Linked DNA regions of Homo sapiens. Changing the gene in region 1 together with any one later gene gives a genetic interaction. Each region holds a gene or a part of one and is shown on either strand. Other genes may lie near its edges. The genes, in order: REV3L, LMTK3, CCR6, SLC16A10, CSAD, A1BG and ATAD1.

Region 1 (4,515 bases):
TGAGCCCAGCACAGCACTGGGACTTGCCCAAGAATTGCAGTCCTTGTGGATAAGACTGGCTTTCAAGTTTATTTAGGATCCCAAAGCACTTTAGCCCATAGTAGTAAGGCTGGCTGCAACTCAGGTTCTGGACTGCTGGGATGGGCAGTTTCCCTCTGGCTGGGGCTGGTCAAATCCTCTCCTCATGGGTGCTGGCTAAATTCTATACCGTGTCGCTCTCCACTGTGACAGGGACGTTGCTTTCCACTGTGACAGGGTAGCACTGAGTTCCAATGCAAAGCAAAGTCCCATATTCACTCTGTTCTGTCTCTCCTAAGCACAGATTTCTCTCTCCGTGCCTCAAGACCACTGCCTGAGAGATGGGAGGTGCTGTCAGCAATTCACGACTGTCTTTTCTACCCTCTTCGCTGCCTCTTTCCTTGATACGTTGTTAAAACCAAGTACTGTGATTGCTCTCCTGATTTTTTATTCTAATGAAGGCGCTTTCTTGTGTGGGTAGTTCAGTTTGGTGTTCCTTCAGGGGACGGCAATTGTTGGAGGATTCCATATGGCCACATGGACTAATATTTTTTGATATCATGAAAATGTAATGAATGTGATATATAATGAAAGCTTTCTGAAAAATATTAATGTAAAATGAATTTTTTAATTGCTTAACCATTTCTTTGTATTTTTATAGCACTTAAAAACTATTTCTGCCCAGTTATGGCAATGAAATGGGAAACCACAACTACAGTTCACAAACAGGCATGAAAAACCAACACACGCCCCATTAGGGATTACACTAAGCTCTTTATTTTTTATGCATTCAAAAGAGAGTCCAATACACATGTGTCAAATAATGAGCACTGTCAATTTTTTTTTTCTAGGAGAGTTCAAAAACATTTATTCTAAATTTGTTGTTTTTGAACCATAGAGAATAAAGAATTTTAGTATTCAAATAAGATAGTTTATCTTTCCTTTTCACTTTATATATTTGAATATGCAGTGATTTTTATCAGAGTAATATAACTACACACATTAAGTAGGATTAAAGAGGTTATAAATATTTGGTGATTTATAGATTCAGTGTTTGTTTTGATAAATCCATGTGACTGGTTAAATATTTCTGTGGCTTTTTATTATGTTTTTATTTGGCATGCATCATTAACATTTTGAAATTTAAAATAGGTTTATATGGTAATGCTTCCAAATTTACACAAATTCTAAATGATAAATTTTGGATTTAGGCCATTGCTTCAATTTTTTTTATTCTTTGTCAAATTAAGGTCACACTAGACACAAAGTGGAAGAAGCTCTTATTAATGAAGAAGCAATTTTGAACCTTATGGAAAATAGTCAGACTTTTCAGCCTTTGACCCAAAGACTGAGTGAGTCACCTGTTTTCAGTAAGTAACAGTGCTACCATAAATATTCAGTATTGTAATTCAGAGAAAATGTGTGTTGTGAAGAGGCATTTTTTTTTTTATTGACTTGAAGAGGTAAATGTTGCATGTTCAGTAAACACTCTACTGAATATGAAAATGAAACCTTGCATTAAATCAAGTAGCTTTGCTTTTTTTCTATACAGCTTAAAAAAATTTGTGAAAGAAAATAGTTTTTTTAACTGTACTTTGATTCACGGAAAACCGTATTACTTAAGAAGGAAAATGCATTTATTTTGAATTAATATTTTGCAAAGTTCAGTACATTACTAAAACACCATAAGTGGTTCTTTCTTGGTGAGTATCACAAATTTCACCGGAGGAAACACGGGTGGCTAGGGCCATGGTCCCAGCCTCCTCATCTCACTGGCCAGGGCTGCACTCAACCAGTCCTTCAGTGGCCTCCCCTTGAGTGGCATCTCAGGCTTCCTGCAGCCACTGCCAGCCTTCCCTGGCAAGGCCTCCCAACTAGGGGCTGACAGTGCTGAGCTGTACCCACGGCCAAGACCCTGTGCAGTCCCAGGCAGCCCTGGCTGGAGCACACAACAATGTTATTTTAATAATGTCCCTAAATTACTCTAATGCAGGTGGTCCAAGGATCAACTTTGATAGGAGAGCTACCTCAACACCTGAGCCTTTGTACCAACTGTATTCTTTCAGCCTGTGCCAGTATCTATGATGTTGTTATTTTATTCTGAGTGATCTGAATTGTTGGATTATTAAGAAAACAGGCCGGGCGTGGTGGCTCACGCCTGTAATCCCAGCACTTTGGGAGGCCGAGGCAGGCAGATCACGAGGTCAGGAGATCGAGACCATCCTGGCTAACACGGTGAAACCCCATCTCTGCTAAAAATACAAAAAATTAACCAGGTGTGGTGACGGGCACCTGTAGTCCCAGCTACTCGGGAGGCTGAGGCAGGAGAATGGCATGAACCCAGGAGGCAGAGCTTGCAGTGAGCCTAGATCACGCCACTGCACTCCAACTCCAGCCTGGGTGAGAGAGCAAGACTCCGTGTCAAAAAAAAAAAAGAAAACTTATTTGTTGGTGATTATTGTACTTGTTTTATAGTGGACAGTAGTCCTGATGAGGCTCTGGTACATCTTCTTGCTGGTTTGGAAAGTGATGGATATCGGGGGGAAAGAAATAGGATGCCATCACCATGTCGCTCCTTTGGAAATAATAAATATCCACAAAATAGTGATGATGAAGAAAATGAACCACAGATTGAAAAAGAGGAAATGGAGCTTAGTTTGGTGATGTCCCAGAGATGGGACAGCAATATTGAAGAACATTGTGCCAAAAAGAGGTAATTTTTTAGTTATTGCAGTTGTTTTATTAACTTTTATCATTATTGTCCTTCAATCAGAAATTATTTATTACTATTGTTCATGATATAAAATACCTTATGAACTAAATTGATGTTTTAAAATTCCCCTTTAGTGATCTGTTTTTCATATGGCGTATACTCCATATTCCAAGCAAAATAAAGTTTTGCTACATTTTAAAAGATTAACCTAACTTTTAGAAGTTATCCATTTATATACACAGTATTAACATATGTGAGTGATAAATGGAGCAAAATTGAAGTGCCTTCTTATCTTAGAACTTAAGAAAAAGAATGCCCTGTGATAGTTGAACTGTTGGGTATCAGAACAACAATGTATAGAGTCAGCCTGAAGACAGGGTATGGTTTTGGGCTCTGATTAGACTAAGGGAACTAAGGTTAAAAACAAATAAATAAAAGACTAAGAAGCAAACACTGGTGTTGTGGTTTGTTTCTCAAAATAAATGAATAAGTTGGTGTTGTGGTTTTCTAAATCAGTCTCTGTGAACTTGATTGGTTTGAGTCTGCCCTTTAGTTATATGCTCTGTGTATAGAAAAATCTAGGCCTATGAGCCTGAAAGACTGAGTATGCCTCTCCTTTAAACTTCTATAGGCTAGATTAGAACTTTTTTAGTCTGTATTTGAAATTTCCAACCCAAAGCCATCACTGAAAGGTGAAACAGGTTAATCCATAAATTCAGTGTTTACATGTATATGATGAAAGTTTTTATTTTTCTACTTAATAAATCAGATATAGAAATCTCCAGATGTGATGTTAAATTCTTTCCTCTAACATTGTCACTGCTGTAATAATAGGCATAGTCAATCCTATGATTAAATTTATGTTTGTATGTTCAGTGGCTGAACCAATTTGGTGAAAACCATGCCCAATTTAACCTTGGGAAAACAAACCTAAACATTTTGTACACATATATTAGAGAGAGATTGAATAGTAGAAGCATGGTGTCTAGAAAAGGGTTTAGTTAATTCTGCTCTTTATATTGGATATTATATTCTGTGCTGAGTACCATATTTTAAGAATACTGAAAAAGGAAAGGGAAAGAAGAGGAAGAAAACTAGAAGGATCTGTGAGCATTGTCACTTTTGAAGAACTTTTGAATGGAGAATGTTTGATCTAATTAGAATTACAAGATGAATGAGAAATGCCTTTATGTATTTTAAAGATTATCATGTGGAAAATGACATCAACCTGCTCTGTATAGCTACAGAGAACAAAATAGGAATCATGTATGGAAGTTGAAAGAGTTTGTGTATTACAAGAAGACAACTATGAATAATTAAAGCCATTAACAGTGGAAAGATTGCCCTGTGAGACAGCAAGCCCCTTATACAGATTATGTAAAAACAGAGATTGTGTCAGGTTCGTTAAAAATGAGGTTTTCGCATTGGGTAGAAAGTTGGACTGGACCTCTGATACCTCTTTCAGCTCTTAAGGGAGTGATTTTTATGATAAATTGTGATTTGGAAAGGCTTAATGGAAAAACAGTTCCAGTATAATAAGTATAATAAAATAATAATAATTTCAAATTGTTGAGATTAGTGAAAGAAAAAATTGGGTATGGATAGGAAAAAAGTTTGCCCATTCAATTAAAAGGGAAAACATCAAGTTAATACCAATATGAGATGAAACTTAAAGACTGGACTTCACTGTCCATCTGAATTTCTCAGTAACCCTTTGTAGTTATTGTCAGGTTGACTGAACACCTTTACTACTTCCTATTACCCTCTCTCTTCTTCAGCATTTT
Region 2 (4,515 bases), on another chromosome or scaffold:
GGATCCGGCAAGTGCCAGGCCGGAGTCTGAGCCCAGAGATGGGACAAAGATGGGCAAGAGTCGGGGGTGGGGGTAATCCCCACAGAAGGTAAAACTGAGGCTCGGGGGTTGGGGACGGCCGGCCTGCCTGCCTACGACCGTCTGATGGACGTCGCCTGGTCTGAGCTGGTTCCAGAGCTGGGTGGGGTGTCTGTTGACTGAGAGGGGAGAGAGAAGAGACTGGGAAGAGAGAGGCAGGGACATTGAAAGATGGTCACAAGAAGTTGGCAGTGGAACATAGGGGGACAGAGATGGGCAGAGGAGGGGGCAGGGCCGAGGATATGGTACCTGCGGGCCGGGCGTCGGGGGCCCGGGCGGGTGGCCCCGGGGTCTCCAGCGCAGGCGAGACGGAGAAGCGGGAGAAGCACAGCGGGGGGCCTGGAGGGGGGAGGAGGGGGAAATCCTCCGCCCACTCGAAACTGCCTCCTGCGGCAGAAGGAAAGACCGCGGTCAGGCTGCAGACACCTGCGGCACTCCCGCCCTCTGGTCCCGCCCCTCCCGACCAAGCCCCTCCCACCCCATAGACCCCGCCCCGTCCGCCCCATGGCTCCCGCCCCCTCCCGCCCCATAGGGCCCGTCCTCACCAAAGCCGCTGTCGTTGCTGGGAAACCCATCTCCGGGGGTGGCGGGGTGGGGAGGTGTCGGGGGCGCTGGAGGCGTTGACGGGTCCGTGTCCCCCTCGGGGGGGGCCTGGACGCTCAGCTCGTTGGTTGGCGTCTCCTGTGAAGGCAGATTAGGGGGAAGCCAGAGGGGACAAACCTTCACGTCCCATTTACCGCATCCCCCAAAAGCAACAAAACCGGCTAATATTTCTGGGGCTCTAGGAATCCCAATTTGTAATCACTGACTCGCACGCTCTGGAGAGGTGGCTGGAGCCCCTAATCTGGCTTCGAAGCCTTGGGCCAGCCTTAACCTCAACCTGGCCAGAGGCTCCTTTCCTGACAGCGGAGCCCCGCGCACAGCTAAGTAGCCCAACGCAGGGATTCTCTCCTGGCTCATTAACGTGAGGCCTCCACCGGATCCCCTAACCCAAAGCGATCTCCATAAGCCCCACCCCGTCCACGTCAGTCCCACCCACCTCTGAGATCTTGACCTGCTCCAGTGGCCCTCCCAACCCCTGCCCCATCCTGAGCGCATGCCGTGCTGGATGCTGTGACCCTGCCCCTGAGCCCTCCCTCAGAAGTAGACCTGCTCCCGCCCTCCAAGTCCCACCCCTCTGAAAACATTTCAGTGGCCCAGGCCCCAGTTCTTGGCCTTGTTTCCATTCCTTTCATAATCTCAGCCCAGTATGCCCGCCCCAGGTTCATCTAGACAAGGTCCCAGTTCCTCAGCACCACTCGCCCTCCCTTTTTCTCTTCAACACCATATCCTGTGTTTTTCTTTTTGTTTTAGACAGAGTCTCACTGTCGCCCAGGCTGGAGAGCAGTGTTGTGATCATGGCTCAATGCAGCCTCAACCTCCTGGGCTCAAGCGATCCTCCCACCTGAGCCTCCTAAGTAGCTGGGACTACAGATGCGCACCACCACACCAAGATAATTTTTTTCTTTTTAAGAGACGAGGTCTCGCCATTTTGGCTAGGCTGGTCTCGAACTCTTGACCTCAAGTGATCCTCCCGCCTCGGCCTCCCAAAGTGCTGGGATTACAGGCGTGAGCCACCCGGGACAGGCCTAACTCTTAACACATTCCTCAACCCATCTCTCTAAAGACCCGTCCCAGTCGTTAGGTTCGCTCATCCCTGACCTCACCCCAGAATACGTTAAGACTGCCTGCTCCATCTCTGAAGCCCACCTGCAGCCTAGCCATGGCCCTTCCCTAGTGGGTAAGATCTGCTCCAACCCGAACCAGCCTACAGACACTAGAACTCTAGTCAACAAACCATGCCCAAACTCTCACTAGGCCCCTTCACCATCCAGGCCTCTTCTCAACACTTCCTCCCTAGCCTCTCCAGGATCCCATACTTGACTACCCAGTACCCCCTCTTTCCTTCCAGACCCACACTCTCTCTCCAGACCTCTCCTCGCCCTCTAGACCACGCCCCCGTCACAAGCCCTGCCCTCACCCTAGGTCCCGCCCCAGCTCTAGGCTCGGCCCATACTCCTGGCCCTGCCCCATTGCCAGGCCCTGCCCTCACACTCAAAGCCTCCTCCCATCTTCCTAGTCCCGCCCCATTTCCCTGACCAGTCTCTCCCCAGACCCCGCCTTCACCCCTCAGGCCCTTCCCGCGCCCTGCTCCATCCGCCCCGCCCTAGGCTCCGCCCCCATTCCAGCCTTGGATTTTCTCCAGGCCTCCTCTTGCCGCGCCACAGACTTGGCCTCCCTCAGGCCCGGATCCAGACTCTGTCCCGATCCTAGGCGCGGTCTCCTTCCAGGCCCCGCCCCCGCTCTAGGCTCAGCCTGCCTTCAAACCCTGCTGTAGACCCCGCCCCACCCTAAGCTCAGCCTTCGTCTAGGCCCCGCCCCAGGCCCTGCACCTCTAGGCTCGACCTCCCTCCAGGCCCCGCCCTGGGCTCCGCCCCCCAGCCCGCCCTCTCCCTGGGCCCCGCCCCACTCTAGCTCGGCCCCGCCCCAGGCCCCGCCCCACTCTAGATTGGGGCTCCCCTTAGGTCCCACCCCAATTCAGCTTGCCCTCCCTCCAGGCCCCGCATCACTCCAGCTCGGCCTCCCTTCAGGCCACGCCCCACTCTAACTCGGCCTCCCTCCAGGCCCCGCCCCACCCTAGCTCGGCCTCCCTTCAGGCCCCGCCCCACTCCAGCTCCGCCTCCCTCCAGGCCCCGCCCAACTCTAAGCTCGGCCTCCCGCCAGGCCCTTCCCGGCTCTAGGCTCCTGCTCCCTCCAGGCCGCGACCCCGAAACCGCGCCCTCTCGGGTTCCGCACCTGGTCGAAGAGGTAGACGGTCACGTCCCCGTGGAAGGAGACCATCTTGCGCTTCCTCTCCAGCTCGCTGTCCTCTGGCTCGTCGGCCCCGCGCGGAGACTTGAGCAGCCCCCGCAGCGGGCGGGCCGCGTCCGCGTCGGCGCTGCTCACCACGACGGGCACCGGGGCTGCTCGCGCCCTCCCGGGGCCCCGCGGCCCCGCCGCCGCGCCCGGCGCCGCCGCCTCCTCGTCCTCCTCCTCGTCCTCGTCCTCGTCCTCCCCGTCCTCCTCCGCCGGCCCCGGCGCTCCCGCCCCGCCGGCCTCCCCGCCAGCCGCCCCGGCGTCCGCGCCCTCCCACGGGGGCCGCCGCGGGCCCGGCCCCGGGAATGGCGTGAGCGTGAGCGGCGGCAGCGCCAGCGAGAGCCGGGAGAGCCTGGCTGCGAGGGGAGAGACCTGGTGAGCCCCTGTCCCGGTGAAACTGAGGCAGGCCCTCCCACCTAGCTGTGTGGCCTCAGATAAGACCCCCGCACAATCTGGGCCTCAGCACCCACTTTGTGAACGGAAGGGCTGCACCAGGGCTTCTCCAGGCAGGGTGGGAAAGGTCCTCTCCAGTGCTCAACCTCCCCAGAGCTCCCCAGTGCCAACGGCTTTAAGCCGCAACTTCCCACAGCCCACCAGGCCCTCATGCCCTGGCCTACCTGATTTCTCTGGCCTCTGTCCCCACCTCCTCTGGCCTGACCTCCATCTAGCCACATGGGCCACCCCACCATTCCTCCCACCGAATAGCTGGGACTACAGGCGCACGTGCCACCATGCCCGGCTAATTTTTTGTATTTTTAGTAGAGACGGGGTTTCACCATGCTGGCCAGGCTGGTCTTGAACTCCTGACCTTATGATCTGCCCTCTTTGGCCTCCCAAAGTGCTGGGATTACAGGCATGAGCCACCACACCCGGCCAGATCCACCTCTCTGAGCCTCTGTTTCCTCACTGGCAAATGAACAAGGGTCACTTAGCCCTCCATTACTGCATAAGTGAACTGCCCTTTCTGAGCTGATGGCAGGGGCAAGAGGAGGGTGGAGGTGGGGCAGGGAGAAAGATGAATGCAGACGGTCCCTCTCAGGTCCTCGTTCTCTCTACTCAAGTTTTACTACCTTTTGCTATTCTCTAAACATGGTGAGCCAGTGCACATCTCAGTGCCCTCTCTAGAACACTCTCCCACCGATGTCCACCTGCCTCACTCCCTCCTTTCCTTCACATCTGCTCAAAAGTCACACTTTTGTTGACCAGACATCTCAGGGTGATGGGGTTATGGGCGATGCTTCATAGAGGGAGTGTTTTTTTTGTTTTTTTTTTTGAAATGAAGTCTTGCTCTCGTCGCCCAGGCTGGAGTGCAGTGGTACGATCTCGGCGCATTGCAACCTCCGCCTCCTGAGTTCAAGCGATTCTCCTGCCTCAGCCTCCCGAGTAGCTGGGATTACAGGTGCCTGCCCCCACGCTCAGCTAATTTTTGTATTTTTAGTAGAGACAGGGTTTCACCATGTTGGCCAGGCTGGTCTCGAACTCCTGACCTCAGGCGATCCTCCCACCTCGGCCTCCCAAAGTGCTGGGATTACAGGTGTGAGC
Region 3 (4,288 bases), about 56 Mb from region 1:
CTCCTTGGAGTGGCTGTGTGATCTTGCAGTCCCACCAACAAAGTGTGAGAGCCCCAGATGCACCATGTCCTCTCCCAGCTTCCAGCCCCCTGTTTAATCTTAGTCCTTCCAGTGGGATCTCTGTGTGTGTGTCTGTGTGTGTGTGTGTATGTGTGTGTGTGTTTTGGACGGAGTCTCTCTCTGTCACCCAGGCTGGACTGCAGTGGCGTAATCTCAGCTCATTGCAACCTCCGCCTCCCGGGTTCAACTGATTCTCCTGCCTCAGCCCCCCAAGTAGCTGGGATTACAGGAGCACGCCATCACGCCTGGCTAATTTTTGTATTTTTAGTAAAGATGGGGTTTCACCATGTTGGCCAGGATGGTCTCGAACTCCTGGACTTAAGTGGTCCGTCTGCCTCGGCCTCCCAAATTGCTGGGATTACAGGCCTGAGCCACTGTTCCCAGCCTTCATTGTGGTTTTAATTTGCATTTTCCTCATGATTAATGGCATTGAGCGTCTTTTTTGTGTGTGTATTTGCCATCCATGTATTTTCCTTGGTGAATTGCCTGTTCACATTTCCCCCTGTTTCTTATTGTTTATGTTTTTGATAGGGAGTTGTAAAAATTATTTGTATATTCTGGATATAACCTATTATCAGATATAAGCTTTAACATACTTTTTTCTATTCAATATATATATGTTTCACTTTCTTGAGTGTCTTTCAAAGAGCAGAAGTTTTACATTTTGTACAATCAAGTACAATTTATCAATTTTTTTACAGTTCATTCTTTTTGCAATTTATATAAGAAGCTTCTTTTTCCAGGGTCACAAAGATTTTCTCCCATTTTTCCTTCTAGATGTTTTATGCTTTAGCTCTCACATTTAGATTTATAACTCATTTGAGTTACCTTTTGCAAATGGTGTGAGGTAAGCAGTAAGGATCGACTTTTTGTTCATGTCATTCCAGGACCATTTACTGAAGACTGTTCTTTTCCCATTGAGTTACCTTGGCACCTAAGTTAAAAATCAGTCCGCCATCTATATGTGGATCTATGTCTGGCCTCTGTTCTGTTCCAGTGATTTATGTAACTGTCCTTTCAGAAATCCAACACCGTCATGGTTAGTGTAGTTCCTTGTCAGCTCTGAGACTGGGTAGTGTGAGTCCTCCATTTTTTTTTTATCTTTTTCAAAATTGTTTTGGCTATTTTAATTTCCTTGAATTTCTATAAAAATTTTGGAATTGACTTGTCAATTTCTCAAAAAAAAAACCCTACCATAATTTTGATTTAGTTTATGTTGTATCTACAGATCGATTTGGGGAGAAATTATATCTTGAAATTGAATCTTTGATAAATTTGAACATGAAATGTCATTGAAAATTGAACATGATAAATTTCTCCATTAATTTAGGTCTTATTTAATTTTTGCCAACAATGTTTTGTAGTTTTTAGCATATAAATCTCACATAAATTTTGTTAGAGCTATCCATAAGTATTTTACATTTTATGATACAATTGTATATATAATTATTGATACTATTATATATGATATATGTGTGTATATATATATATATATATATATATATATATATATATAGTTTTAACATCCAAATGGTAATTCCAATTGGTGTATTTTATTTTACATATTGTATATTTCACCTCCCATGCCCTCCACCCCTGCCATGCTCTGCAGCTTAGAAAGAGTGTGTATCATTTCTCACTGTATTTGTTCTCCTCCTGCCAGGATCCATAATCCTGTGATGCCTAGTGCCGAGGTCTGAAAATGGTTGTTACATTTTGTAGGTTTTTCTAGTTGTTTAATGCAGCAGGGTGCCTTTGGTCTCTGTTGATCCACCGTGGCTGGAAGCTGAAGTTTAGCAGTGGTGTTCTGATTGCTGTGCTTCTTCTGATTGATACGATTACCTCGTCACATGCTTTTGCAACACAGGGGTCTATACCACGCTTCTTCTGCATACTCTAAAGCACTCAACTGTATACCTGCTGGGATTACAAAAGTGCAGAGGTGACTCCATACCTTCCTCCAGCTTTTTAGGCCCAAAGCAGTGACTGAGGGGCAGTGAAGAACCGATCTCTAAGTTGTGACTCCAGGCATCAGGGAAGGAATGGGGTGGAGTAAATAATGAAATGAGAATCAAAATTATGTAAGAAATAGGTTTGGAAAATAATTCAGGGTGAACTTTGTGTTACATGGGCTTCCTCTCCAAAAGGTCAGTATCCACGTGGACTCGTAAGTGAGGACTGATATGACACAGTGTGGGGGCGAGGAGGGCAGTTCCACTTTCTCTGCCTGTGCACCTGGGGCTGCACTTCCCTAGCTGCTCCCGCTTGGCATGGCCAGGCCCACGTGGTGCGAGAGCAGGGAAAAGAGGAGGAAGATGGGCGATTGGCTGGGAAGCACATCCAACGTCAATATCAGAGCGTTTCAGGCCATGGATTTTACTGGGGGACGTCCAGGGCGTGTTAATAAACAGGATGATGGACAATGCTGGAAAGAAGGAGTGAGCCTGAGAATAGCGAAGGGTTTTTCTTTCTTTTTAAGTTTGCTTCAGATGGTGGATTTCAAAGCCCTTCGTCCTCAGGCGCTCCACAACCGCTCCAGCTCTTCCCGGTCTCCTGCTAAACTTCTTCAGCCTGGACCCATGCACCGCCACTGCTGGCGTTCCCAGCACACGGTATACTCCATTGTTTCCTGACAATCCAGTTGATTCGGCCAGGCTGGTTGCTCAGCTGTTTCACAAACATACAGGGCTCATGACTCAGGACTGCTCTTCAGCCTGAGACGAGCTGGTCACCTGAAGGAGATGGCGGTTCTCTGTCAATCATTGGCCCATAGCCTCACCATTCTCCAAGAACCCTGATCAGAGCCTCCTCCTCCAGGAAGTCTTTCCTAACTGTGCCAGCCTCCACCTTTCCTCTGGCATTTGGATTTCTGATGATTAGGATGCCTCTGCCACAGCAGATTCATGCTTGTGACCTGGAATGTCTACTGGAAAGGTCTGCGGCTGTGGAGAAGCAGGTGCATTCCTCTCCAGCGCCTTCCCAGGCTGGAGCAGCTTGTTCAGTGTGTCTTGAGAACAGCACTCATAGTCAAACTTTAAATTCTACTGGAGATTCTCACATGCCCACAGGGGTGATCATCACTGACATATATTGTGAACGATTTAAAGCCCGGGACTATGAATTATACATTTTCTATGCGCTTTCACACTTCTATAGATTTTGTTCAGTAAAATCTTGTTGAATGTTTTTAAATTTTGCGTAAAGATTTTTGTGCAGATCAAAACTTGTGGATTTCTGAGAGCACCTTATTTAACCAATAGATCAAGGGTTGGCAAATTATAGCCTCTAGCCAACGGACCCCGGCGAGGCCTGTTCAGTTATGTAATTGTAGATGCTTTCAAGCTCCAAAGGCAGATTTGAGGAGCTGTGACAGAGACCATATGGCCTGAAAAGCCCTAAAATATTTACTATCTGGCCCTTTACAGAAAGAGGTTGCTGATGCCTATTCTCAATGAATATTTGTATGTAAAATAGTGTGCTGTGCACTCTGTTCACACGAGATGGAATGCTGGTAACTTAACTGTCTGGCTCTCCAGGAATACCTGTGTTAACTGTAGTGCATTTTGCCTTCTTTCCTTCTTAGAGTCACCTCTACTTTCCTGCTACCGCTGCCTGTGAGCTGAAGGGGCTGAACCATACACTCCTTTTTCTACAACCAGCTTGCATTTTTTCTGCCCACAATGAGCGGGGTAAGATTTTTATTTTTGGCAAGGGGTATAATTTGGGTTCACTGTGGCTACTTGAACACTACACTGCAGCTAACTCTATCTTTGTTTCCTTTCCAGGAATCAATGAATTTCAGCGATGTTTTCGACTCCAGTGAAGATTATTTTGTGTCAGTCAATACTTCATATTACTCAGTTGATTCTGAGATGTTACTGTGCTCCTTGCAGGAGGTCAGGCAGTTCTCCAGGCTATTTGTACCGATTGCCTACTCCTTGATCTGTGTCTTTGGCCTCCTGGGGAATATTCTGGTGGTGATCACCTTTGCTTTTTATAAGAAGGCCAGGTCTATGACAGACGTCTATCTCTTGAACATGGCCATTGCAGACATCCTCTTTGTTCTTACTCTCCCATTCTGGGCAGTGAGTCATGCCACCGGTGCGTGGGTTTTCAGCAATGCCACGTGCAAGTTGCTAAAAGGCATCTATGCCATCAACTTTAACTGCGGGATGCTGCTCCTGACTTGCATTAGCATGGACCGGTACATCGCCATTGTACAGGCGAC
Region 4 (4,515 bases), 160 kb from region 1:
TTTTCTACATTTTGATTTATCTTTAAATCTCTTTTTGTCTCAATAAATGGGAAGTATCAGGAAGTCTTTTTACTTGCTCAAGGTCATAGAGAGCTTAGAACCTGGTAGTGTCCCTCTGAGCCCCAGTTCTTTCCAACCTGCCAGGCTGTAGGCCCAACAATTACTCACCACTAAGAAATTATGCTTGTGCTGTCATGGAAGTTGCATTGGAGAAAAGGATATTTAACTGGCAAACAAAAGTCAGGAGAATGGGGAGATTTTGTTCTTTTGAAATGCTAGTGTGAAGTGCTAGGCTTATTTTTCAAATGCCCAACTCGTATTCTTTTCTTTTCTTTTTTTTTTGAGAGGGAGTCTCACACTGTCGCCCAGGCTGGAGTGCAGTGGGGCGATCTCGGCTCACTGCAAGCTCCGCCTGCTGGGTTGACGCCATTCTCCTGCCTCAGCCTCCGAGTAACTGGGACTACAGGCGCCCACCACCACGCCCGGCTAACTTTTTTTTTTTTTTTTTTGTATTTTTAGTAGAGACGGGGTTTCACCGTGTTAGCCAGGATGATCTTGATCTCCTGACCTCGTGATCCGCCCTCCTCAGCCTCCCAAACTGCTGGGATTACAGGCGTGAGCCACCGCGCCCAGCCGGCCAACTCGTATTCCTAAACGAATCATAATTTTACCATAAGACCATAGTTTAGTGATTGAAGAAAAAATGTACCGAACTGTATGATATGATGGTGTCAAAAAGAACTAACCCAATATGAAACAGTTTTCAGGAGCATGTTTCCTATTTTGGTGTCAGTGGACCACTTGTGTTAAAGTTGTGAAAACCAACACTCCTGAATTCCACCCAGAACTCACACTCTGCACCTTCAGAGGCCCTCAGATTGTGAGTGGCTGCCCCGAGGTGTACTACCAACCTCCAGCTTCCGTAGGTCCGTAGGTGTGCTAGTAGGGCCTAGGAAAAACAGAACAGATGAGGACAGTGATGCATACAGCTGCTTTATCTGGTCTCTCCTTCCTCCCTAGCCTGACTGCTATTGGAGGGCACCCTCCAGGCACAGTTCTGTTCACAGCCTGCTGCTGCCCCCGTGGGCCATGGTTCCAGGACGGCTCCATCTTCTGTGCTTTGGGCACATTAACCTCTCCCAGCGTCACTATCTTCATCAGCAAAATGGAGATAACATTAGTACCACCTCATAAAGTTGTTATGAGGATCACCAGTGAGATAATCAATCTAAAGTGCTTACAACAATGCTTGGCACTTGGTAAACACTAAATAAATGATAGTTGCTATTATATGCATACTTTTAAAAAACTTGATGCTTTTAAAAATTTTTTCTGCTGACTAGTGAATTGTTCAGTTTTTGTTGTTGTTGTTGTTGTTGTTGTTGTTTGAGACGGAGTCTCGCTCTGTCGCCCAGGCTGGAGTGCAGTGGCATGATCTCGGCTCACTGCAAGCTCCACCCCCCGGATTCACGCCATTCTCCTGCCTTAGCCTCCCGAGTAGCTGGGATTACAGGCGCCGGCCACCACGCCCGGCTAATTTTTTTGTATTTTTAGTAAAGACGGGGTTTCACCTTGTTAGCCAGGATGGTCTCGATCTCCCGACCTCATGATCTGCCCACCTCGGCCTCCCAAAGTGCTGGGGTTACAGGCATGAGCCACCGTGCCCGGCCATGAATGGTTCAGTTTTAACAGGTTCTGTGCCTTAAAAAAGTTATTAAATTGACTGTTTCCTCCTTTTTTGTACCCATCATACTTTGAATATATAACTACGGCAGCATATAAACACTTCACTTGCACTTATTTATTTAAATGTCCATCTTTCCATAACCCAAGGGTAGGAACGAAATCTTATTCATTGTTGAAACCTCTAGCACATAGCACAGTGCCTACCAAATAGTAGGCAAAATCAGGTGTTCAATTCTATTAACTACTCTAACACTGAACTGAAAGTGTTCAATGGCTCAAAATAATATAATAAGCCTTAACTCTGGGGTGCTTAAATTTATCTATAATCTCTGCCAGTGAAGTATACATAGTTTTAAAGGTTAAAAAAAAATCAAGTGTTTAATGAATTTGAGCTGATTGAGCACTGACCAGATACAGGATCCTTAAACTTCATAATATCTAGTCCAAAGATGAATTTTTTTTTTGGTACAGATTCTGACTTCAAGGGATTTGCAGGCTGGGAGGGAAATTAAATATATAAAAAGTCATTTTCGGCCAGGCGCTGTGGCTCATGCCTGTAATCCCAGCACTTTGGGAGGCCGGGCAGGTGGATCACTTGAGGTCAGGAGTTCAAGACCAGCCTGCCCAACATGGGGAAGCCCCATCTCTACTAAAAATACAAAAATTAGCTGGACTTTGTGGTGCTTGCCTGTAGTCCCAGCTACTCAGGAGGCTTAGGCAGAAGAATTGCTTGAACCTGGGAAGCGGAGGTTGTAATGAGCTGAGATCACACCACTGCACTCCAGCCTGGGCAACAGAGACAGACTCCAGCTCAAAAACAATACGTTTTTTTAATCTTGTCCCTTAATGGAAATATTGAGAAAATGTCTAGGGGAACTCGAAGGAGATGATTATAGGAGTTGATTATGTATGTAAAATCAAAGTGAATGAGGCAGTGGCAGGGGGGAAAGGGGGAACCAGTAATGACTTAGAAGTCCTAAGCATGTTGCATGGTAATTGTGACATTTGCTTCCTGCGAGCGGAGCTGACCTTGTGGTGTCCGTCCTAGGTACTCTCCTTTTTCTTCATTGGTCTGATGTCCATGATGATTCCTCTGTGTAGCATCTTTGGGGCCCTCATTGCTGTGTGCCTCATCATGGGTCTCTTCGATGGATGCTTCATTTCCATTATGGCTCCCATAGCCTTTGAGTTAGTTGGTGCCCAGGATGTCTCCCAAGCAATTGGATTTCTGCTCGGATTCATGTCTATACCCATGACTGTTGGCCCACCCATTGCAGGTAAATATAATGATTCTCCAGTAGTTATATTAATTCATAGTATTTTCTACTTCAGGTCTTAATTAAGTCTCATTTATATGTAAAACATATTACAGGTTATTGATTACTGGTCTTTTGCTTTTATGTGTGCCTTACTGGTAACATTTTTAATAAGACTAGCTATTAAACAGTATGTTGAATTTGCTGAAGAGTCCCTCTTATCCTTACTGGCAGCTAAAACACTATATAAAACACTTTGGGAGGCTGAGGCGGGAAGATCACCTGAGCTCAGGAGCTTGAGACCAGCCTGGACAACATAGTGAGACACTATCTCTACAAAAAATAAAAAATAAAAAAATTAGCCAGGCGTGGTGGCATGCATCTGCAGTCCCAGATGCACAGGAGGCTGAGGTGGGGGGATTGCTTGAGCCCAGAGGTCAAGGCTGCAGTGAGCTGTGATCATACCACTGTACCCCAGCCTAGGCGAAACCCTATCTTTAAAAAAAAAAAAAGTTGAAGATTCTGAAAGATTTCTAAATATGTCGGCTTTTGGTAAGAGATCATACATCCCCCTGAGGAGTAGTTGATGAAAAATAACATGATAGAAAAAACCCAAATGCCTGTAAATACCTAACTGGGTAAGCAAAATGTGGAATATCTACAGTGCAATATTATTCAGCCATAAAAAGGAGTAAGGTACAGAACTGATGCTACCAGGTGAATGGACCTCAAGAACATTATGCTAAGTGAAAGAAGCCAAACATAAAAGGTGACGTGGCTGGGCATGGTGGCTCACACCTGTAATCCCAGCACTTTGAGAGGCCAAGGCAGGAGAATCATTTGAGCTCAGGAGTTCCAGACTAGCTTGGGTAACATAGCAAGACCTTGTCTCTACTAAAAATAAAAAAAATTAGCCTGGCATGGTGACACATACTAATATTAGTGTAGTCCCACCTACTCCAGAGGCGGAGGCGAGAGGATCTATTGCGCCTGGGAGATCAAGGCTGCAGAGCCGTGATAGCACCACTGCACTCCAGCCTGGGTGACAGAGTGAGACCCTGTCTCAAAATAAAAGGTCATATATCGTATGATTTATTTCATGTGAAATATCCAAAATAGGTAAATTCATACAGATAGAAAACTGGTGACTGCCAGGGGCTGGAGAGAAAGGGATTGGGAAGTAACTACTTAATTGGAATGAAGTGTCCTTTTGGCATGATGAAAATATTTTGGAACTAAATAGAAGCAGTGGGTGCAAAACATTGTGTATGTGCTAAATGCCACTGAATTGTTCACTTTCAAATGGTTAATTCTATTTCATGTGAATTCCACCTCTAGAAATTCTCTGAATGATATTATAAAGATGTCCTATGTTCAGTATTACTTGGGTGCCTGTGTCAATTAGTATTAGAAGATTCAGTATAAATATGATAAAATTTAAATGTGTGTACTGTCATCTGTGTTTGGCACATGAGGTGCTCAGTGAAGGTTTAGCTCAATTCATTCTCATACCCTGAACTGTATTCCTAGTCATGAATCAAGCAAGCAGAGTTACTACTGAGCAGACCAAATC
Region 5 (4,515 bases), on another chromosome or scaffold:
CCGGATATGTAAATTTTAATAGATTCTGTGAAAATGAATTGTAAAAGTTTGTAACAACTCCCATGTTTACTCAGAACCATGTGTGAATGTTCCCTATTCCTACAACTTTGGCAATGTTTAGTGTATGCTATGAATTTTTTATACAGTTACTAGTTTAATGGGTGAAAAATAGTATTTGTTTTAATTTTCATGTCATTAATAGTGAAGTTAATATTCTCTTATTGCCTTTTTTTTTTTTAAGAGATGGGTCTCTGGACAGGCACGGTGGCTCACGCCTGTAATCCCAGCACTCTGGGAGACCGAGGTGGGCGGATCACCTGAGGCCAGGAGTTTGAGACCAGCTGGGCCAACATGGAGAAACCCCATCTCTACTAAAAATACAAAAAAATTAGCTGGGCTTGGTGGCACGTGCCTGTAATCCCAGTTACCAGGTGGCTGAGGCAGGAGAATCACTTGAACCCGGGAGGCGGGGGTTGCAGTGAGCCCATATTGTGCCATTGCACTCCAGCCTGGGCAACAAGAGCGAAACTCTGTCTCAAAAAATAAATAAATAAATAAATAAATAAATAGATGGGTCTCCACGCTTTGTTGCCTTAGGCTGGTTTCCAACTCGTGAGCTCAAGTGATCCTCCCACTTCAGCCTTCCAAATAGGTGGGACTATTTTATTGCTCTTTGACCATTTTAATTGTTTTTGTAAACTGTCTGTTCATATCCTTTGCCCATTAAAAAAAGGTAGATCATTTGTATATTTCTTATTGATGGTAGAAATCCTGTCTGTGTTATGGATAATAACTATTCTTTGTCGTCTGCATTTAAAATATTTTCTCTTTTTCACTTATCTTTCAGCTTTTGAGACAAAAGTCATGCTTTATGGGAAAATATTTGAAACATTTCTGTCTTTGCTAGGAACAAGCCAGGGATGTTTACTATTAAAACTAAGATTTTAGGAGAGCTCCTGGCCACCCTAAAGCCTCCTTGATTTCATATATATTCATCTTACAAAGAGAAACGATTGACAATGTATCAAAACTATGGAGTTCAGCAACATGACCAGATGTCAGATTAACAAACAAAAATTATATAAATAAAATATAAGAATATAACCAACACTAAAATACCATAGAATAAATAATCTGATTCACAATAAAAACATTATATTTTGGCCAGGCGAGGTGGCTCACACCTGTAATCCCAGTGCTTTGGGAGGCTGAGGTGGGAGGATTGCTTGAAGCCAAGAGTTTAAGACCAGCCTGGGCAACATAGTGAGACCCTGTTTACAAAAAATTAAAAAATTAACCCGGCATGCTGGCATGTGCCTGTAGTCCTAGCTACTCAGGAGGCTGAGGTGGGAGAATTGTTTGAGCCCAAGAGTTCGAAGCTGCAGTAAGACATGATTGTGCTACTGCACTTCAGCCTGGGTGATACAGCAAAACTTATTCTCTAAAATAATAAATAAATATTTTTTTTTTTTTTGAGATGGAGTCTCGCTCTGTCACCCAGGCTGGAGTGCAGTGGCATGATCTCGGCTCACTGCAAGCTCCGCCTCCCGGGTTCTCGCCGTTCTCCTGCCTCAGCCTCCTGAGTAGCTGGGACTGCAGGTGCCCACCACCATGCCGGGCTAATTTTTTGTATTTTTAGTAGAGATGGGGTTTCACCATATTAGCCAGGATGGTCTCGATCTCCTGACCTCGTGATCCACCCGCCCTGGCCTCCCAAAGTGCTGGGATTACAGGCGTGAGCCACTGCTCCCAGCCCCTTCTGGTATTCTTGTTTTTTTTTTTGAGATGGAATTTTGCTCTTGCTGCCCAGGCTGGAATGCAATGGTGCGATCTTGGCTCACTGCAACCTCTGCCTCCCGGGTTCAAGCGATTCTTCTGCCTCAGCCTCCCAAGTAGCTGGGATTACAGGCATGCACCACCACACCCGGCTAATTTTTGTATTTTTAGTAGAGACGGGGTTTCACCATGTTGGTCAGGCTGGTCTCGAACTCCTGACCTCAGGTGACCTCAGGTGATCCACCTGCCTCGGCCTCCCAAGTGCTGGGATTACAGGCTTGAGCCACTGTGCCCGCCCCTCACCCCCCCTTCTTGTATTCTTATGGTTGTATATTTTCAGTTTCTGTCTTTATCTTAGCTGCAGTTAATTTTTGTCAATGATGAGAAATAGTGAGAAATGCCACACGGACCTGTGATGCAGTGGAAGAGGTAGCCTAAAGTCAGAAAGTCAGTGATCTAGGCTTGTTCCCATGTCACCTTTGTAATTTTGGACAATTAGTTCACCTTCTTTCAGCTAAGAATCCTCATCTTGAAAACAAGAATGAATAAATACCTATTTAGGCTAATTTCTAATACTATTGTGAAGGTCAAATAAGATAATAAATGAGAAGGAAAAACACCCTTTGCAAATCTATTATCATTACTACAGATTCTTGGTTGATGCAAATCAAATGTAAGTAGAATGCAGCATTTTTTCCAGTACCTGCAAATCATTGATTGATTTAACAAATGTTTATGTAATGCCTCTGTGCAAGTCCCTGGGGGAGGGGAGAGGACAATCAAGAAGATGGAAACTAACATTTGAGGGGTCCCTGTTTTCTATTAGTTTACTTAATGAAGGAAAAGACTTAGTTCTCTCCACCCAGGAGAGTACAGTCTAGAAGCAGAGAAAAGATTGTATACATAGGAGAGTTTGTGCCTTTATTAATGTGGGTGTGGAGCCACTAGGGTTTGTTGATTGGGAGATAGCACAGAGTACTTTAGCTTTCTAACCATAAACCTGGCTGAGAGCGCTTCAGGAGACAATTGCCTAGATCCCTTTGTCCCCAGGCAGGCCTCCTCCTGTGTGACCTTCCCTAACTCCCTCTTCCCTCAGGCCCACTCCATCACTTATTCAAATAGCATTGCAATGACTCCTGCTGAGTCTTTTCCTGCACCAGCTCTCTATTGCCTTAAGGAGAGCCTTAGTGTTTTGTCCTTGAAGCCTGTCCTGGGCCAGTTGAACTTTCCTGCCTTTCCATGGTGACCTCTCAACTCCCTCTTGTGGCAATTTCCCTTTATTTTACATGCAGGTCTCTCTTGCCAGCCTGTTAGCTGGAGCCCACAGGGCAGATGCAGCACCTAGGGTAATGCCAGCCAGGCGCTCAGAAGTAGACAACACTCAGTCAATGTTTGCTGAACAAACTGAACCCATTCCCTTCCCTGAGAGCCAGCGGGGGTTGAGGGGTTGCGTAATAGAGATGAGCAGTGTGTGGCTCCCTTTGCCTTCCATTAGACCTTTGATAACAGTGGATTGAGGAGTTGGGAAACCACATGATGTGCAAGGGACATTCCTTGAGCCTGATGATTTGTATATTTTAGAATTCTTGTACCCCCTTAATTCCTCCATATATATATATATTTTTGAAATGGAGTCCCACTCTGTCGCCCAGGCTGGAGTGCAGTGGTACCATCTTGGCTCAGTGCAACCTCCGCCTCACAGGTTCAGGTGGATCCTGCCTCAGCCTCCTGAGTAGCTGGGATTACAGGCACCCGCCACCACGCCCGGCTAATTGTGTATTTTTTAGTAGAAATGAGGTTTCGCCATGTTGGCCAGGCTGGTCTCAAACCCCTGACCTCAGGTGATCCACCCACCTCAGCATCCCAAAGTGCTGGGATTACAGGTGTGAGCCACCACACGCGGACAATTTTTATATTGTTTAAAAAGAACCGTTATTTTAATTCCATAAGCAATGTGAAATGATTGTATAAAGTTATAAAAATATAGATGTGTATAAATAATAAACTTAAAAATCATCCATAACAACACCCAGAAATAGCCACAAATGAATATTTTGAAGTCTTTTTCCTTCTTTTTCAGTATTTTCTTTTTTTCTTTTTTTTTTTTTTGAGATGGAGTCTCGCTCTGTCGCCTAGGCTGGGGTGCAGTGGCGCGATCTCTGCTCACTGCAAGCTCTGCCTCCCGGGTTCACGCCATTCTCCTGCCTCAGCCTCCAGAGTAGCTAGCTGGGACTACAGGGGCCCGCCACCACACCCGGCTAATTTTTTGTATTTTTAGTAGAGACGGGGTTTCACCGTGTTAGCCAGGATGGTCTCGATCTCCTGACCTCGTGATCCGCCCGCCTCGGCCTCCCAAAGTGCTGGGATTACAGGCGTGACCCACTGCGCCTGGCCTGTATGACCCGTTTTACATGAAATGGCCAGACTAGACAAATCTACAGAAACAAAGTAGATTAGTAGTTGCCAGGGGTCGGGGAAGGGGAGAATGGGAAATGACTGCTACTGAGGTTTTTTTTTGGGTGATGAAAATGTTCTGGCGTTAGATAGTGATGATGGTTGCAACAACTTTGTGAATTTATGAAAAAAACACTTAATTGTACACTTTTCACCCCACTTCCTCTGCCATCTTGGTCCTGCTGTCCTGAGGAGCTACCTGTGCACCCTGCCTCCGGCTCTCCTGAGCAGAGAGGTAAGCTTGTCTCTGCCTTAGGTGGAAATGGCCACTAGAGTCCACTTGCT
Region 6 (3,920 bases), on another chromosome or scaffold:
CCAAAACGGCTGGTCCGGGGACAGCGCGCCGGTCGAGCTGATTCTGAGCGATGGTGAGCCGGGGCCAGCAGGGACAGGGACGCGGCTGGGTCCCTGGGGAGCAGGAGCAGTACCAGGTGTAGAGTCTGGGGAAGTGCAGTGCTCTGGGCCAGGGTCCAATACCAACTTTATCCGCCCACCCGCCGATTCAGGGTCCTAAACTGCAAATATGATGATGAGCGTGACAACCTTCAGGCCCCACAGGGAATAACTGGGTGAACAGGTCTGGCCCAGGCCACAGGGGGCACCACCTGGCAGGTCCCATCCCAGCTGCCAGGTCTAGGTGAGCACTGAGGGCCTCTGCTGAGGCAGCTCCTCCGCTCGCTTGCCTTGGACCTGATGGTATTTAGCAAACTCTGAGCACCGGACAGCGAACCCCATGCCCAGCGGACCACAGGGGCCCCTCCGTGGGGCGGGCATTGGGGCGGTGCTCAGAAGACGCTCGTGGAGCAAATCCACTACTGAGCGGCATCGTGCACCAGGCATCAAGCCATGCACAAAACATGTCCCCGTCCCCGCTTCCCGTCTGTGTCTGTAGACAAACAAATTACTAAGAAACAGTGAAAGGGTGCGTGTGAGATATCCAAGGACTGGGATGCAAAGGTGGGGCGGGCCCGGAGGAGGCGAGGGAGGAAGCTGGCCAGGTCATTGCGGGCAGAAGACTCAGCCAAGGCAAAGAGCGCGAGGCCAGACCACGCGTTAGGGCCGAGCCAGCCGCTGGGCGCCCGGGTCAGCCCGTGTGCTGCTCCGCAGAGACGCTGCCCGCGCCGGAGTTCTCCCCGGAGCCGGAGTCCGGCAGGGCCTTGCGGCTGCGGTGCCTGGCGCCCCTGGAGGGCGCGCGCTTCGCCCTGGTGCGCGAGGACAGGGGCGGGCGCCGCGTGCACCGTTTCCAGAGCCCCGCTGGGACCGAGGCGCTCTTCGAGCTGCACAACATTTCCGTGGCTGACTCCGCCAACTACAGCTGCGTCTACGTGGACCTGAAGCCGCCTTTCGGGGGCTCCGCGCCCAGCGAGCGCTTGGAGCTGCACGTGGACGGTGAGCTGGCGGGGCACCAGCGAGGGCGGGCGCGGGTTCAGTGCCCCTCGGGGCCTCCTGTCTTTCCCCTCTTTCCTTGGGCGTCCGACGGCGGCGCTCTGGGCCTTGGTTCAGCCCCCATCGCCTACCCCGGCGGGGAGCAGGCGATCGGTGGTCGAGGGTCTGGGGACGCCTGGAATTTCGGCTTATTTCCCACGGACGCAAGCCCGTAGGTCACGTGTAGCGTGGTGGTCGGCAGCAGGGAGGCTGGCCCCAGGTTTTCTTGTTCAGATCCCTGCAGCTCTGTGGCTGCCTTGTTTTATTACTGGCCATGTCAGTCGTCATACTGGACCCCCCGCCCCGGCCCCGGTCCCGCAGGCGCACGGCTGATGTGTCCTTCTCCCCATCCCCGCCGTCCCCAGCTCTGTTTGTCCCTCTGATTTCCTCATCGACGTCTCCAGGACTCAGAGCCCAGCAGAGCGTGAGGGCACAGGTCTGACCTCCAGATCTTGAGGTCGTACCCTTTGCTGGGAGCACCGTTTTCTCTTTTCTTTCACTTTCTTTCTTTTCTTTCCTGCCTTCCTTCCTCTTTCTTTCTTTCTCTTTCCTTCTTTCTTTCTTCCTTCCTTCTTTCTCTCTTTTCTTTCTTCTTTTTTCTTCTTTCTCTCTCTCTCATCTCTGCCCCCCAACCCCATCTCTCTCCTTCATTCCTCCCTTTTCTTCTCCTTTTTGTTTTTTTTTTGGATAACTTACTTTTATTCTTGCAGGCCGGAGTGCAGTGGTGCAGTCTCAGCTCACTGCAACTTTCGCCTTCTGGGTTCAGGCAGTTCTCCTGCCTCAGCCTCCTGAGTAGCTGGTATTAGAGGCGCATGCCACCATGCCCACCTAATTTTCGTATTTTTAGTAGAGACCGGGTTTTGCTATGTTGGCTGGGCTGGTCTTGACCTCCTGACCTTGTGATCTGCCCGCCTCTGCCTCCCAAAGTGCTGGGATTACACTTGTGAGTCACCATGCCCAGCCTATTCTTGCAGTGTTATAAGCCACCATCCACAATTGATGAAAAATGTTTAATCTTGGCCAGGCAAGGTGGCTCACGCCTGTAATCACAGCACTTTGGGAGGCCAAGGCGGGTGGATCACAAAATCAGGAGTTCAAGAGCAGCCTGGCCAACATGGAGAAACCCTGTCTCTACTAAAAATACAAAATTAGCCAGCTGTGGTGGCACATGCCTGTAATCCCAGCCACTTGGGAGGCTGAGGCAGGAGAATTGCTTTAACCCGGGAGGTGGAGTTTGCAGTGAGTCCAGGTCATGCCACTGCATTCCAGCCTGGGCAACAAGAGCAAAACTCCATCTCAAAAAAAAAAAAAATGTTTAATCTTTAAATTGTACATCTATATCCTATGACTCCAAATTTTATTTATCACTCTCCTTAAAGTCTGAAGAAAATGATTAATTTACTAAGCTCCAAAGACAACACAGTCCCACTGACATAACATTTAGTATGATGTCCTACTCTCCTGTTAGAATTAAGAACAGCCAGTATCAAACTGGCCTGAAATCTGATTGGGTTCCTGGGCTCAGAATAACTGTAGTAAATTTGTAAATCCACACTAAGACACAAAATTAAACTAGGATGTGTATATCTATCTTACAAGAAAACGTTTCACAGTAAAAATTAACATTATGATTTTACCAAATTTCAACATTATAGTTTGTTAATCCAATCAAGCTTTCAAAATTCCTGATTAGCTTACAATTAATTGCAAATAACTTCATGTAGTTTGGCTAGCATTTCAAAATGGATAGGGAATATAACTTTTAAAATGCGAAAGTATATTATACATATTGCACTTTTCTGCTAGGCTGGGCTAGTATCTTCCATGGCAAGATACTCAAACTATTGAATAAAATACACATTTAAATCAAGCACTTACATGTACTTCATTAATTTCCCTGAAATTATCAACAGCATTACCAAAATCTTCCAGGATTTTGTAACATTTGATTCCTTACAGTTTTGTTTTGTTTGTTTGTTTTTGAGACGGAGTGTCACTCTGTCACCCGGGCTGGAGTGCAGTGGCGCAATCTTGGCTCACTGAAACCTCTGCCTCCCAGGTTCAAGCAATTTTCCTGCCTCCACCTCCCGAGTAGCTGGGATTACAGGCGCACGCTGCCACGCCCGGCTAATTTTTTGTATTTTAGTAGAGACGGGGTTTCACCGTGTTACCCAGGCTGGTCTGGAACTCCTGAGCTCAGGCAATCCGCCTGCCTCGGCCTCTCAAAGTGCTGAGATTACAGGTGTGAGCCACTGCGCCCGGCACCTTAAATACACTTTTAAAGTTAAACTTATGGAGGGAAAACCCTCATCTATTGACATAGATTGTATGTCCTTTTTTGGTCCCTCCATGAAGGAGCACCGTTTTCTCCATCATTTCTTCTTCCCTTCACCCGTCAGAGTGACCGAGGCTGGGGACCCCAGAAGCCCCAGAGCAGGCCCGAATCTGGGACTTCCACGGTCCTGGGGGAGGGGTGCGGGGACACTCACGTGTGGCGCGGATGTCCGGGGTGTGAAGGCAGCGGGCGCAGCTCGGCGGCGCCGGAGGAGCCCTCTGCGCCCAGGAACAAGACAGGGAAGATGAAGCCGGGGCTGAGGCGCAGGCGCGGGCGCGGCCTGGGGTGTGGCCTGGGGTGTGGCCTGGGGCGTGGCCTGGGGCGTGGCCTGGCCCGACCACCCGCCCGCTCCGCCCAGGACCCCCTCCCAGGCCTCAGCTCCGGGCGACGTGGAGTGGGGCGGTCCTGGCGGGCCGAGATGCCGTCCTGCGCTGCGAGGGACCCATCCCCGACGTCACCTTCGAGCTGCTGCGCG
Region 7 (4,515 bases), on another chromosome or scaffold:
AAAACGAACCAAAGATTTGTCTGGATACCTCAAAGACTTATAATATCTTTTATAGAGGTTTGGAAACTGGTAGGTAGGGCAAATTTATGAGAAGATGACATTTGATCTGGCCATGTTGGGTTTGTGTTGGTGGTAGGAATTCAGGAGGAAATGTTCATATAGCAATTGAAGTTGCAGGTCTGAATCTCAGAAAAAAGGTCAATCCAGAGGTATATTTCCTTATCGATGGTTATAAGTAGTTGAAGTCGTTAGAACAGTGAGTAGGCCATATGGTTATTCCTGTATGTGTAGATATCATTTGTAGAACTTTTCCCAAATTATTCCCCATCTCCCCTCACCACCATCAAGATTTATACATATATTTGTTGAGAAATTCTAATGTAATTGTCACTGTAATAAATGGTAATGACTATACTAAGAGTGATGAAGTCTCCAAAAGAGGTGGTGTAATGCAGCATAATTGGTAAGCTGAAGCGTAAGCCTTGATACATTTCCTTTATTTAGGGTATAGAAAGATGATGTGCAGCCAGTGAAGAATGAATAGGTCAGTATGGGTAACAAGACTGACTCCTGCTGAAAACAGCTAAAGAAGCTTGATAATTTTTTAAAAATCTTGTTTTATTTATTTATTTATTTATTTATTTTTGAGTTGGAGTCTTGCTGTGTTGCACAGGCTGGAGTGCAGTGGTACAATCTCAGCTCGCTGTACCCTGCTTCTTCCGGGTTCAAGTGATTCTCCTGCCTCAGCCTCCGGAGTAGCTGGGATTACAGAAGTGTGCAACCACACGTGGCTAATTTTTGTAGTTTTAGTAGAGACGGGGTTTCACCATGTTGACCAGGCTGGTCTTGAACTCCTGACCTCAAGTGATCTGCCCGCTTTGGCCTCCCAAAGTGCTGAGATTACAGGTGTGGGCCACTGTGTCTGGCCTAAAAATCTTAAAGGCATTCATGAGCTATCAACAAAGTAAAGAATGCAGGTTAAAAACTTAAGGCAAAAATTTCAGAAAGCTAAGGTGAGCTTGATTGCCAGCCTTTACCTTGAGAGAATTTGCTGAATTCTGTTTTTATGATTTCAGAGGGGCTCAGTATACAAAACATAGGGCCAATCTAAAGTAGGTAGTTTCATAGATGATACTCCTATAAATCTAGAACCCCAAAAGGCTATCTGTAGTATTTCAACTAAAGATAAAGACACAGTGTTTTAAAGATGAATAGTTTAAAGAGAGAAATTTAAGCCATATGCTGGGTGAAGTAACACATCTAAAATATAGATTCAGAAAGGTTGAAAGTAAAAAGATGGAAATGTATATACCACACAAATATAAGAAGAAAACTGGCTGGGCAAAAAGAAATTGTAAGGCAAAGATATTGGAGAAAATGTTTGCTACATAAATGATGAAAGATTCAATTCACCAATAAATATAACATTTCTATTTGTGTGTAACTATTGATGTAGCCTGAAAATACATAAAGCAAAAATATGATATAACTACAGGGAAAAATGGACATCTCCATCAACATGGTGAGAGACTTTTAACACCTAATAATTGTTCAGATTTTTTAAAAATTAAGGATATAGAAGATTTAAATAAAAAATGGACATGTATAGTATATTGTGCCAAAATAAATGCAAAATACATATCTGAAGCACATATGATTTGTGAAAATAAACCGAATACTAGATAATAAAGCAAATCTCAAGTTTCATAATATTGGTAGCGTATTTATTAACATTTCCTGGCTATAGTGCAGTACAGTAGAGATCATTAGAAAAATAAGTTTGGAAAGTATGAAATATTTTAAAATGACTCCTGGGTAAAAGAAAGCACATAATAATGAAATGAATGGAAATAATAACATAAGTTAATGAAATAGAAAGTGAATATACAGTAGAGAAAAATCAATAAAACCCAAAATTGTTTTTTTGAAAAGACATAAAATCAAGACTTTTCAAACCGACAAGAAAAAAGTTACCAATAAAATACTACCTGGAACAAAAAAGGCCTAATATTGCTGTAGATATTAAAAACAAGGGCCGGGCACGGTGGCTTACACCTGTAATCCTAGCACTTTGAGAGTCTGAGGCAGGTAGATCACCTGAGGTCAGGAGTTTGAGACCAGCCTGGCCAACATTGTGAAACCCTGTCTCTACTAAAAATACAAAATTAGCCGGGCGTGGTGGCATGTTCCTGTAGTCGCAGATACTCAGGAGGAGAATCGCTTGAATCCAGGAGGCGGGGGTTACAATGAGCCGAGATTGCGCCATTGCACTCCAGCCTGGGCAACAAGAGAGAAACTCCATCTCAAAATAAATAAATAAATAAATAAATAAATAAAATTAATAAATAAAAAAAATTAGGACTGTTCATAACTATAGTGGGCCCTTGAACAACAAACAACGTGTTTAAACTGCATAGGTCCACTCATAAGCAGATTTTTTTTTTTTTAATGAAAGTTCAATTGAGTGTGCCCGTCTCTCCTGCCACTCCTTCCACCTTCACCTCTTTTACCTCTGCCAACCTGAGACAGAAAGACCAACCTCTCTTCCTCACGCTACTCAACATGAAGATGATGAGGATGAAGTTAATATATTTCCCTTTATGATTTTTTAAATAACATGCTTTCTCTAGGTTACTTTATTGCAAGAATACAGTATACAAACTATGTTATTAACTGTTTCTGTTAGTGATAAGGTCAACAGTAGGCTATTTTAGTAGTTCAGTTTGAGGGGAGTCAAAAGTTCTCTATGGATTTTTGAGTGTGTTGGGGTCAGTATCCCAATCCCTGTATTGTGTAAGGGTCAACTGTTACGTCGATAAATTTGAGAACTTAGGTATGGGTAAACCCTTAGAAAAATATGCATTTCTAAAACTGACTTAAGAAGAAATAGAATACATGGTTAGTTCCATAACTATGAAATAAGTTAATAGTGAAAATATCTTTTTATAAAGAAAACTTCAGGCCCATAGAACTTTATAGCAAATTCTGCCAGTATTTAAGGAACAAATTAATAATAACCAATTTATGCAAATTCTTCTAGAATATAGGAAACGAGGGAACACTTCCAAACCTTTTTGTGAGGCTAGCATAACTACAGTTCTAAAACCTATAGTAGTCTGTAATTTCTCTCTCTCCCTTCTAAATTGGTATAAGAATCTTAAATGTCAGCAAGTTAAATTCAGCAATATAGAAAAAATATAATGCGACCAGTTGGATTTATCCCAGGAGTTTAAGCCTGGCTTCATTTAAGGGATGGGAAATCAATATAATATGCAACATTAACAGATTAAAGAATAAAACCTGTATGATTCTCCCAATAAATGCAGAAAAGGCCTTAAGCATTCATTCATGGTTTTAGAAAAGCTTTTAATAAAATGGGAACAGAAGATAGTGTTCTTTTTGTTTTGTTTTGTTTTTTGTGTTTTCTTTTAGACGGAGCCTTGCTCTGTTGCCCAGGCTGGAGTGCAGTGGCATGATTTTGGCTCACTGCAACCTCTGCCTCCCGGCTTCAGGCGATCTTTAACTTGATAAAATGCATTTACTAAAACAAATGTATTTTATAGTGAAGAATTGGAAACATTCTCTTTATGATTAGGAGCAAGCCTGTTGTCTTTCATTACTTTTCATTACTTTTTTTTTTTTTTTGGCTTTTCTTTGTTTACTTTGTTTACTTCTTTGTTTACTTTTACTTCTGTTTAACATTTTACTGAGTTACTAGCCACTGCCTAAGTCAAAAAGGTGGGGATTGGAAAAGAAGAAACTAAATAGTCATTATTAATGGATAATATGATAATCTACATAGAAAGCCAAAGAATGTTTACAAGCTATCAGGATTCATGAGAGTTTGATGGGTTTGCTGGATTTAAAATCAGTATACGAAAATCAGCTGTTTCTGTATACCCATCATGTTTTAAAATGTCATTTAAAAAAAGCATTATATAGTAGCATCAAAAATATAAAACAACGGACAAACATAAGACATACAACACATTCATAGAGAAAATTATAAAACTATTGAAAGTTTAGTTAAATTCAACATCAGTACAAAAATACTGGCAGATTTTCGTTTTGTTGTATTTTTTCCTGAAATTCATGTGGAAGAACAAAAGTCTATAAATAGGGAAGGCAATCCTAAAACACAAAGTTTTATTTAACTACTTTGGGTCTTGAGTTTTCTTATCTGTAAAAGAAATAATAATAGCACTTACCTTGTTGGGTTGCTATTGAAATTAAATATATAATGTAAAATATAACAGTGCTGCATAAGTGTTTCCTATTATTTTTATAACTTAAAAGATTTGTACTGAGGACATATATAGAATGCATCTGAATCAGTAAGAAAAAATAATAGAAAAATGGGCAAAGAAACTTAAATAGACACATTAAAAAAGAAAAATCTCCAGTGGTCAATAAACATATGAAAAGATGCACAAACTGATTAGAAATCAAGGAAATGCAAATTAAAGTCAAATTGATATACCTTTTCACCCCTGCCAGGTTGTAAAGTTTTAAGTC

The links.
Region 2: changes in REV3L (region 1) and LMTK3 impair growth when combined (synthetic growth defect), as found in Homo sapiens cells (one large-scale study listed by BioGRID).
Region 3: changes in REV3L (region 1) and CCR6 impair growth when combined (synthetic growth defect), as found in Homo sapiens cells (one large-scale study listed by BioGRID).
Region 4: changes in REV3L (region 1) and SLC16A10 impair growth when combined (synthetic growth defect), as found in Homo sapiens cells (one large-scale study listed by BioGRID).
Region 5: changes in REV3L (region 1) and CSAD impair growth when combined (synthetic growth defect), as found in Homo sapiens cells (one large-scale study listed by BioGRID).
Region 6: changes in REV3L (region 1) and A1BG impair growth when combined (synthetic growth defect), as found in Homo sapiens cells (one large-scale study listed by BioGRID).
Region 7: changes in REV3L (region 1) and ATAD1 impair growth when combined (synthetic growth defect), as found in Homo sapiens cells (one large-scale study listed by BioGRID).

What each region holds. Positions count from the first base shown.
Region 1 is NC_000006.12:111,378,198-111,382,712, reverse strand, and holds part of REV3L (DNA polymerase zeta catalytic subunit), read left to right. Parts: intron 1-1,268; coding exon 1,269-1,388; intron 1,389-2,493; coding exon 2,494-2,731; intron 2,732-4,515. UniProt on the Homo sapiens protein: Catalytic subunit of the DNA polymerase zeta complex, an error-prone polymerase specialized in translesion DNA synthesis (TLS). Lacks an intrinsic 3'-5' exonuclease activity and thus has no proofreading function.
Region 2 is NC_000019.10:48,490,781-48,495,295, forward strand, and holds part of LMTK3 (serine/threonine-protein kinase LMTK3 precursor), read right to left. Parts: intron 3,330-4,515; coding exon 2,914-3,329; intron 760-2,913; coding exon 624-759; intron 466-623; coding exon 328-465; intron 1-327.
Region 3 is NC_000006.12:167,132,395-167,136,682, forward strand, and holds part of CCR6 (C-C chemokine receptor type 6), read left to right. Parts: intron 1-3,643; 5' UTR 3,644-3,740; coding exon 3,741-3,749; intron 3,750-3,845; coding exon 3,846-4,288. UniProt on the Homo sapiens protein: Receptor for the C-C type chemokine CCL20. Binds to CCL20 and subsequently transduces a signal by increasing the intracellular calcium ion levels.
Region 4 is NC_000006.12:111,216,080-111,220,594, forward strand, and holds part of SLC16A10 (monocarboxylate transporter 10), read left to right. Parts: intron 1-2,734; coding exon 2,735-2,963; intron 2,964-4,515. UniProt on the Homo sapiens protein: Sodium- and proton-independent thyroid hormones and aromatic acids transporter.
Region 5 is NC_000012.12:53,173,678-53,178,192, reverse strand, and holds part of CSAD (cysteine sulfinic acid decarboxylase), read left to right. Parts: intron 1-4,422; coding exon of another isoform or gene 4,423-4,465; intron 4,466-4,515. UniProt on the Homo sapiens protein: Catalyzes the decarboxylation of L-aspartate, 3-sulfino-L-alanine (cysteine sulfinic acid), and L-cysteate to beta-alanine, hypotaurine and taurine, respectively. The preferred substrate is 3-sulfino-L-alanine.
Region 6 is NC_000019.10:58,347,524-58,351,443, reverse strand, and holds part of A1BG (alpha-1B-glycoprotein precursor), read left to right. Parts: coding exon 1-53; intron 54-792; coding exon 793-1,074; intron 1,075-3,803; coding exon 3,804-3,920.
Region 7 is NC_000010.11:87,807,464-87,811,978, reverse strand, and holds part of ATAD1 (outer mitochondrial transmembrane helix translocase), read left to right. Parts: intron 1-4,515. UniProt on the Homo sapiens protein: Outer mitochondrial translocase required to remove mislocalized tail-anchored transmembrane proteins on mitochondria.